Regions from separate parts of the Homo sapiens genome. Here region 2 is linked to region 1. Evidence: fine-mapped expression QTL. A gene starts in region 1. The other region holds a variant in brackets. All regions are shown on one strand. Distances are between the middles of the regions. Region 1 holds the start of GPRASP1 (G protein-coupled receptor associated sorting protein 1). Region 2 overlaps LINC00630 (long intergenic non-protein coding RNA 630).

What was found. PIP is the estimated chance that this variant, and not a neighbour inherited with it, causes the effect.
Region 2: its variant is the best candidate, but not a certain one, in a credible set for the expression of GPRASP1 in cerebral cortex (GTEx, PIP 0.73).

What each region holds. Positions count from the first base shown.
Region 1 is chrX:102,649,808-102,652,721 of GRCh38, forward strand. It overlaps GPRASP1 (G protein-coupled receptor associated sorting protein 1), which reads left to right and starts at 1,676. Exons shown (of 6, transcript NM_001184727.2): 1 at 1,676-1,788; 2 at 1,880-1,926; 3 at 2,368-2,458. All of the region lies in intron 4 of ARMCX5-GPRASP2 (ARMCX5-GPRASP2 readthrough), which reads left to right.
Region 2 is chrX:102,908,248-102,911,161 of GRCh38, forward strand. All of the region lies in intron 10 of LINC00630 (long intergenic non-protein coding RNA 630), which reads left to right. Among named protein-coding and RNA genes, the nearest start is that of RAB40AL, 28 kb to the right of the region's middle. The variant C/T (reference allele first, on the strand shown) is at 1,809.

The sequences.
Region 1 (2,914 bases):
TAAAATAATACCAATTTATTATTATCTTACAGTCCTGGAAGGTTGGAAATCTTCAAAGGGCTTCACCACACTAAAATCAAGATGTTGCCAGAGGAGCTATCCCTCTGGCATTTCTAGGGAAGAATCTGTTTCTTTGTCTTTTCCAGGTTCTGGAGACAGCCTGTATTTCTTGGATCTTGGCTTCCTTCCATCTTCAAAGCCAACGATGACCAGTGTAGACTTTCTATGCTGCTTCAATCTGACATGGAGTCCCTGCCTTCCACATCTAAAGTACCCTTGCAATTACATTGGCCAAGATAACCCAGAATAATCTTAAATTAAACTCAGCTGAATAGCAATCTTAATGATCCTTTGTCAGGTAATATAAAATGGTACATGTTCTGGAGAACAGGACATGGACATCTTTAGGGGACCGTTACCTGCCAAACACAATGAGGGTAGTGTCTAAATGAGTTTTCAAATGGACAACAGTAACAACATCAACTTGGTGTTTAACCACATTGCTCTGTCTGTCCCATGCAGGAAGCAGGGAAAGGAGGGGCTCAAGAGTAGAGGACGGATGTGGGGGTGAAAGAAGAGGATTCAAATGAGCCAGGTTGCTTTGTCTCGGGGAGGGGGGTGCACGGTGGGATCCTCTCCTGAGAATGACTGCTGAAACAATAGGTAGTTGTGGCAGGTGGCGGAGATCCAAGCTGGTTTGATACCAGCCACATTTCCACACTGCCAAATATCATGGCAAGAGAAGACTTGACAGGGAACCGAAGAGAAGCCAGGACCATCCCTACCTGGCGGCATCAAAGAGAGAGGACTGTTATGACCTCCTGCGGGTCCTGACAGGGAAAGGTCCTCTTTTGGGGGCAACTGTGGGGACGGTGCAATGCCAACGTGAGCCACCATTTGAAATGAGAAACAGCGGTGTGGCAGAAAGAAATGAGTCTGGTGCAGACCAGTGGTTGGTTTCCTAGGGTTAGAGGTCTAGGTCTACCTTCTTTTAGAAGAGGGGCAGTGGTGAGTCCTTGATGGGAGCCCCCTGCCCCGGAGTTCACTTAAGAGCAGGTGTACCTTCCTCCCCTGCGTGGCTCCACGAAGCTGGGAAAGAAACGCACAGGACGACCACCCTAGAACCCCGGGCCTGTCTGGACTGAAATCGCCTCTCCCCTCCCACACTGCAGTGCTGACACCCCCTCTCCCATTAACATCCAGGAAGGAGGGTGAGCAGACTAGGGAGGGGGAGAGGGCAAACACCCAGCAGTCCTTATAGGGGGGCGGTTGGGGCGGGGGTGCAGACACACCAAGGGACGGTTTGGTATCCATCCGCTGCTCCCTCCAGCGCGGCTCTTCGCGACCTCGCGATCCTGTCCTCCGCCCGGCCCCGCAGCCGCCCGCCGGTGCCATATATTATAGCAGCGCCAGAAATGTGGTGGTCGTCGCCACGTTAGGGTCCGCGGGGTCCTCCTGAGGCAGCCTGGTGCCAACCCGCAGGCCCCGGCTGGGGCTCGTCCTGGCCCCGCCCACCTCTGGGTCGGAACTATGGTGGTTCTGTGAGGGGGGGCGTCCTGCACTTTCGCGCCGTATCCCTCCGCCCCCCTTCCCGACACCCTCGCGGAGAGCGGTTCTTGCCGCATCCTGCGCAGCCCCTGCCCAGTTTGGTGCAGAGGCGTGGGGGGCGGGACTCGTCTTTGCCATTCGGATCGCTGGGAAAGCGGTGGGAATCCAACTGAAGAGCAGCCAGAGGAGAGCTGAAGAGAGGAGGGGGAGGCCGATGACCTGGGCTCTGGGCCTCTGAAGGCAAGTAGGGGTGCGTGAGGTGGGGGGCCGTGGTGTGGGGGTGGTCCGCCAGGGTGGACCGGCTGGCAACCTGCCCCCCGGACCCTGACAGCCTGGCAACGAGGAGACGATCCGTTCGGAGCCGGGCGCTAGAGAGAGGTGCGCAGTGCCCGAGATCCCTGGCTATGGGGAGGCGGTGACTGGTGCGGGCCAGGCCGGACCAAGGGCTGAGGGGCTGGCTCCAGAGGCACCGTCAGATCGTCTGGAGGAGAACCGCGCTGACCGCTTCCCAGCCAGCTTTGCAGGCGCCCGCGCGCAGCCCTCGACGGTTTCGGTACCGAGAGACGGCTGTGGGGGAGGCTCCTGCGGGAGAAATGGCCAAACGGGAGCCGTGTTGGGGGGCGCCCGGGAGGCAGTTGGGGGGCGCCTGGGGGGGCCCTCGTGGGCCAGCGTCCCAGCTCTGTGCCTAGCCCGTGGGAGGTGGGTCGCGTTCGCTGCTCCGGGCCCTGATTCCGGAAAGGGGCCTGTGGGGCCCCGTGTCCTGGGTGCTGTCCCTTCCCACAGACTCCAGGTTGATGTCAAAGTCTGTCTGCGCGGTAGGTCTGGCGTATTCTGACAGGACACAGTGAGCATCTGTAGAGGAGAGGCTTGAAATAAAGGAGGAGCACGAATATTCCCTGGATTTCTGGAGGTGTGTGGGGATGTGGGGTGGGTGCCAAACACTGGAGAACCGAATCGGGGTGGGGGACTGCGACCAGAGCAGGTCAGGCATCCAGGAGCACCTCTTAATCTTCCCCTCTCTAATGGTGTTCCAGGCGCTTCCCCCACCTTCCATCCCCATCTGCCTCCCCCACCGTCCTAAACTGGGGGCTTGAAAGGGTGAGCTTTGGAGGTAGGGGTGATGAGGGAGACATACTGACAAGTACCAATTCACGACCTGTTTTCTAGAATATGTGGCGCCCTTCCCCCATTTTCTGCTGCGCAGAGCAAGGGGATGTGGCGCACCTAGTGGTGAATCCTCAGAATTGGAGAAGGGAGTAATGAGAAGAGTATGACGTCAAGAGAAGGAGTTGTTATCTCTAGAACCTTGAAGCAGGGCCTAAACAAAACGAGAATATTCCACCAGCAAAACCCCGAATGTTGAAAG
Region 2 (2,914 bases), 260 kb after region 1:
AAATTCCTGGACGTATACCACCTACCAAGATTGAATCAGGAAGAAATAGAAAACCTGAACAGACCAATAGTAAGTAATGAGATTGAATCAGTAATAAAAATTTTCCAACAGAGAAAAGCCCAGACCTGGATGGTTTCTCTGATGAATTCTACCAAACCTTCAAAGGAGAACTAACAAAAGTTATATTCAAACTACTGAAAAAAAATTGAAGAGGAGAGAATTCTCCCTAACTCATTTTATGAGGGCAGCATTATTATGATATTAAAAACCAGACAAGGACTCAACAACAACAAAAAACTACAGGCCAATAACCCTGATGAAAATAGATGCAAAAGTTCTCAACAAAATACTAGCAACCTGAATCCAACAGCACATCAAAAAGATAATATGCCGTGATCAAGTGGGATTTATACCAGGGATGCAAAGATGGTTCAACATATGCAAATCAACAAACATAATACATTACATCAACAGAATGAAGGACAAAAACCATATGATTATCTCAACCAATCCATAAAAAGCATTTGATAAAATTCATCATCCCTTCATGATAAAAACTCTCAAGAAACTAGGCATCAAAAGAACGTAACTCAAAATAATAAAAACCATATATGATAAACTCAGGGCTAACATCATAATGAATGGGGAAAAGCTGAAACCATTTCATCTAAGAACTGGAACAAGACAAGGGTCTTGTTTTTTCACCTTCATCACTACTATTCAACATAGTACTGGAAGACCTAGCCAGAGCAATCAGACAAGAGAAATAACAGATATCCAAGTTGGATATCTTTACATTTGTTCCTCTTTGCAAATGATATAATTTTATATCTAGAAAAACCTAATGACTCCATCAAAACCCTCCCAAATTTGATAAATACAATATAGTTTTAGGATAGAACATCAATATACAAAAATCAGTAGTGTTTGTATGCACCAATGACGAAATAGCTGATGATGAAATAGTGGAGAAAGAAATTAAAAAGGCATGCCTACTTGAAATAGCTACCAAAAAAAAAACCTAGGAATAAATTTAACCAAGTAGGTGAAAGACCTCTACAAGGAAAACTACACAACACTGATGAAAGAAATTGAAGAGGACACAAGCAAATGGAAAGATATCCTATGCTCATGGCCTGGAAGAATTAATATAGTTAAAATGACCATACTGTCAAAGGTAATCTGCAGATTCAATGCAATCCTTATCAAAGTACCAATGACATTTTTTGCAGAAATAGAAAAAACAATCCTAAAATTGATATGCAACCACAAAGGAACCCGGATAACCAAACCAATCCAGACCAAAAAGAACAAAGCTGGAGGCATCACACTACTTGACTTCAAAATATATTACAAGGCTATGGTAATCAAAACAGCATGGTATTGGTATGAAAACAGACACAAAGACCAATGGAACAGAATAGAGAACGCAGAAATAAATCCACATGTTTACAGACAAAACTGATTTTCAACAAAGGCACCAAGAACGTACGTTGGAGAAAGGACATCCTCCTCAATAAATGGTATTGGGAAAATTGGATATGCATATGCAGAAGAATGAAACTGCATCTCTGTCTCTCATCATATACAGACATCAACTCAAGATCAATTAAAGACTTAAATGTAAGATCTGAAACTATAAAAGTACTAGACAAAAACCTGGGGGAAACACTTTAGTACATTGGTCTAGGCAAATATTTTATGGCTAAGACCTTAAAAGCACAGACAACAAAACCGAAAATAGACAAATGACCAATATGTGTGTCCACCACAGAGTCCAGGGCCTTTCCTCTGCAACACCTTGTCAG[C/T]GTCAGTACTTTCTTCATTCCTCTGTAGCCTTTCTCACCTCCCTATACTTGGGGAGTCTAAATGGCACTACTTTATGAGTGTCTGTAGAGCAATACTTATCAAGGCCTACATAGGCACACACGCTTTGTGCTAGCATTTCCTTTTATATGTTTATCTTCAGGACTTAGTGAAGAATGTTGATTAAAATCTGGTTACAAGTACTGCCATCCTGATATTTCCCTTTTTTCACTTTTGGGCTTGAATTTAGAAAGGGAGACGAAATGAGATGCAAAGACACAAGCCAGAAGGAAGTAAAGGGAAATGTGGTTGTCAGCACACACATACACTCACACTCTCTCTCTCACACACACACACTCACTCCTACATCAACCAGGTTCTGTTATCACAATACTACAATTCTCTCAACATAGTTGTTGGGCTCCAAGGGGACCCATTCAGCTCACCAGAGCAAATAGCCATGGGAACTCTGCCCTGGATTACAACCACTACCAGTGCACAGACTCTGAAAAGATGCTATCCATGTCGTGTAGATAATAGGGAATATTGGAACACTCTGAATAATATGGGGTTGTGAAAATTGATTATGTCACATCCACAGTATGAAATTTCAGAAGAGAGCAAAAATGAGTTATATTGAAACAATGATGAGAGATGATTTTTTTTGCCTATCAGATTAGTAAAGATTCACATTATTTCTAATATGAGCAGAAAGGAACTTTCACACTGGAATATTAGTAGTATAATGCTTTTATTAAAAGTATTTTGATTTCAGATAAATGCATGGGGGCAAGATGGCAGATAGGAGGCAGGACCAGCTTGCAGCTCCTGCTGAGATGGACAGAGCAGCATGTGGAGACTCGTACTGTAAACCTTTGCTCCAAGAAGTACTGCAGGAACATACCAGGAAAGCTGAGAGAATCCACAGACCCTTTGAAGAAACTGGATCACTGTTGCAGGCCCCCTGAGATGCCGAAAAACTGTGAGTCTGCTTGCTTTGTCAGTGGGGAAGCTGGTGGTCTGGGACAAGTTCTCAGCCCTGGTCACTGGTTGCCCTGAAATAGACTCGGTGCTGTTGTAGGGCACAGTGGGAATGACACCAGCCTTT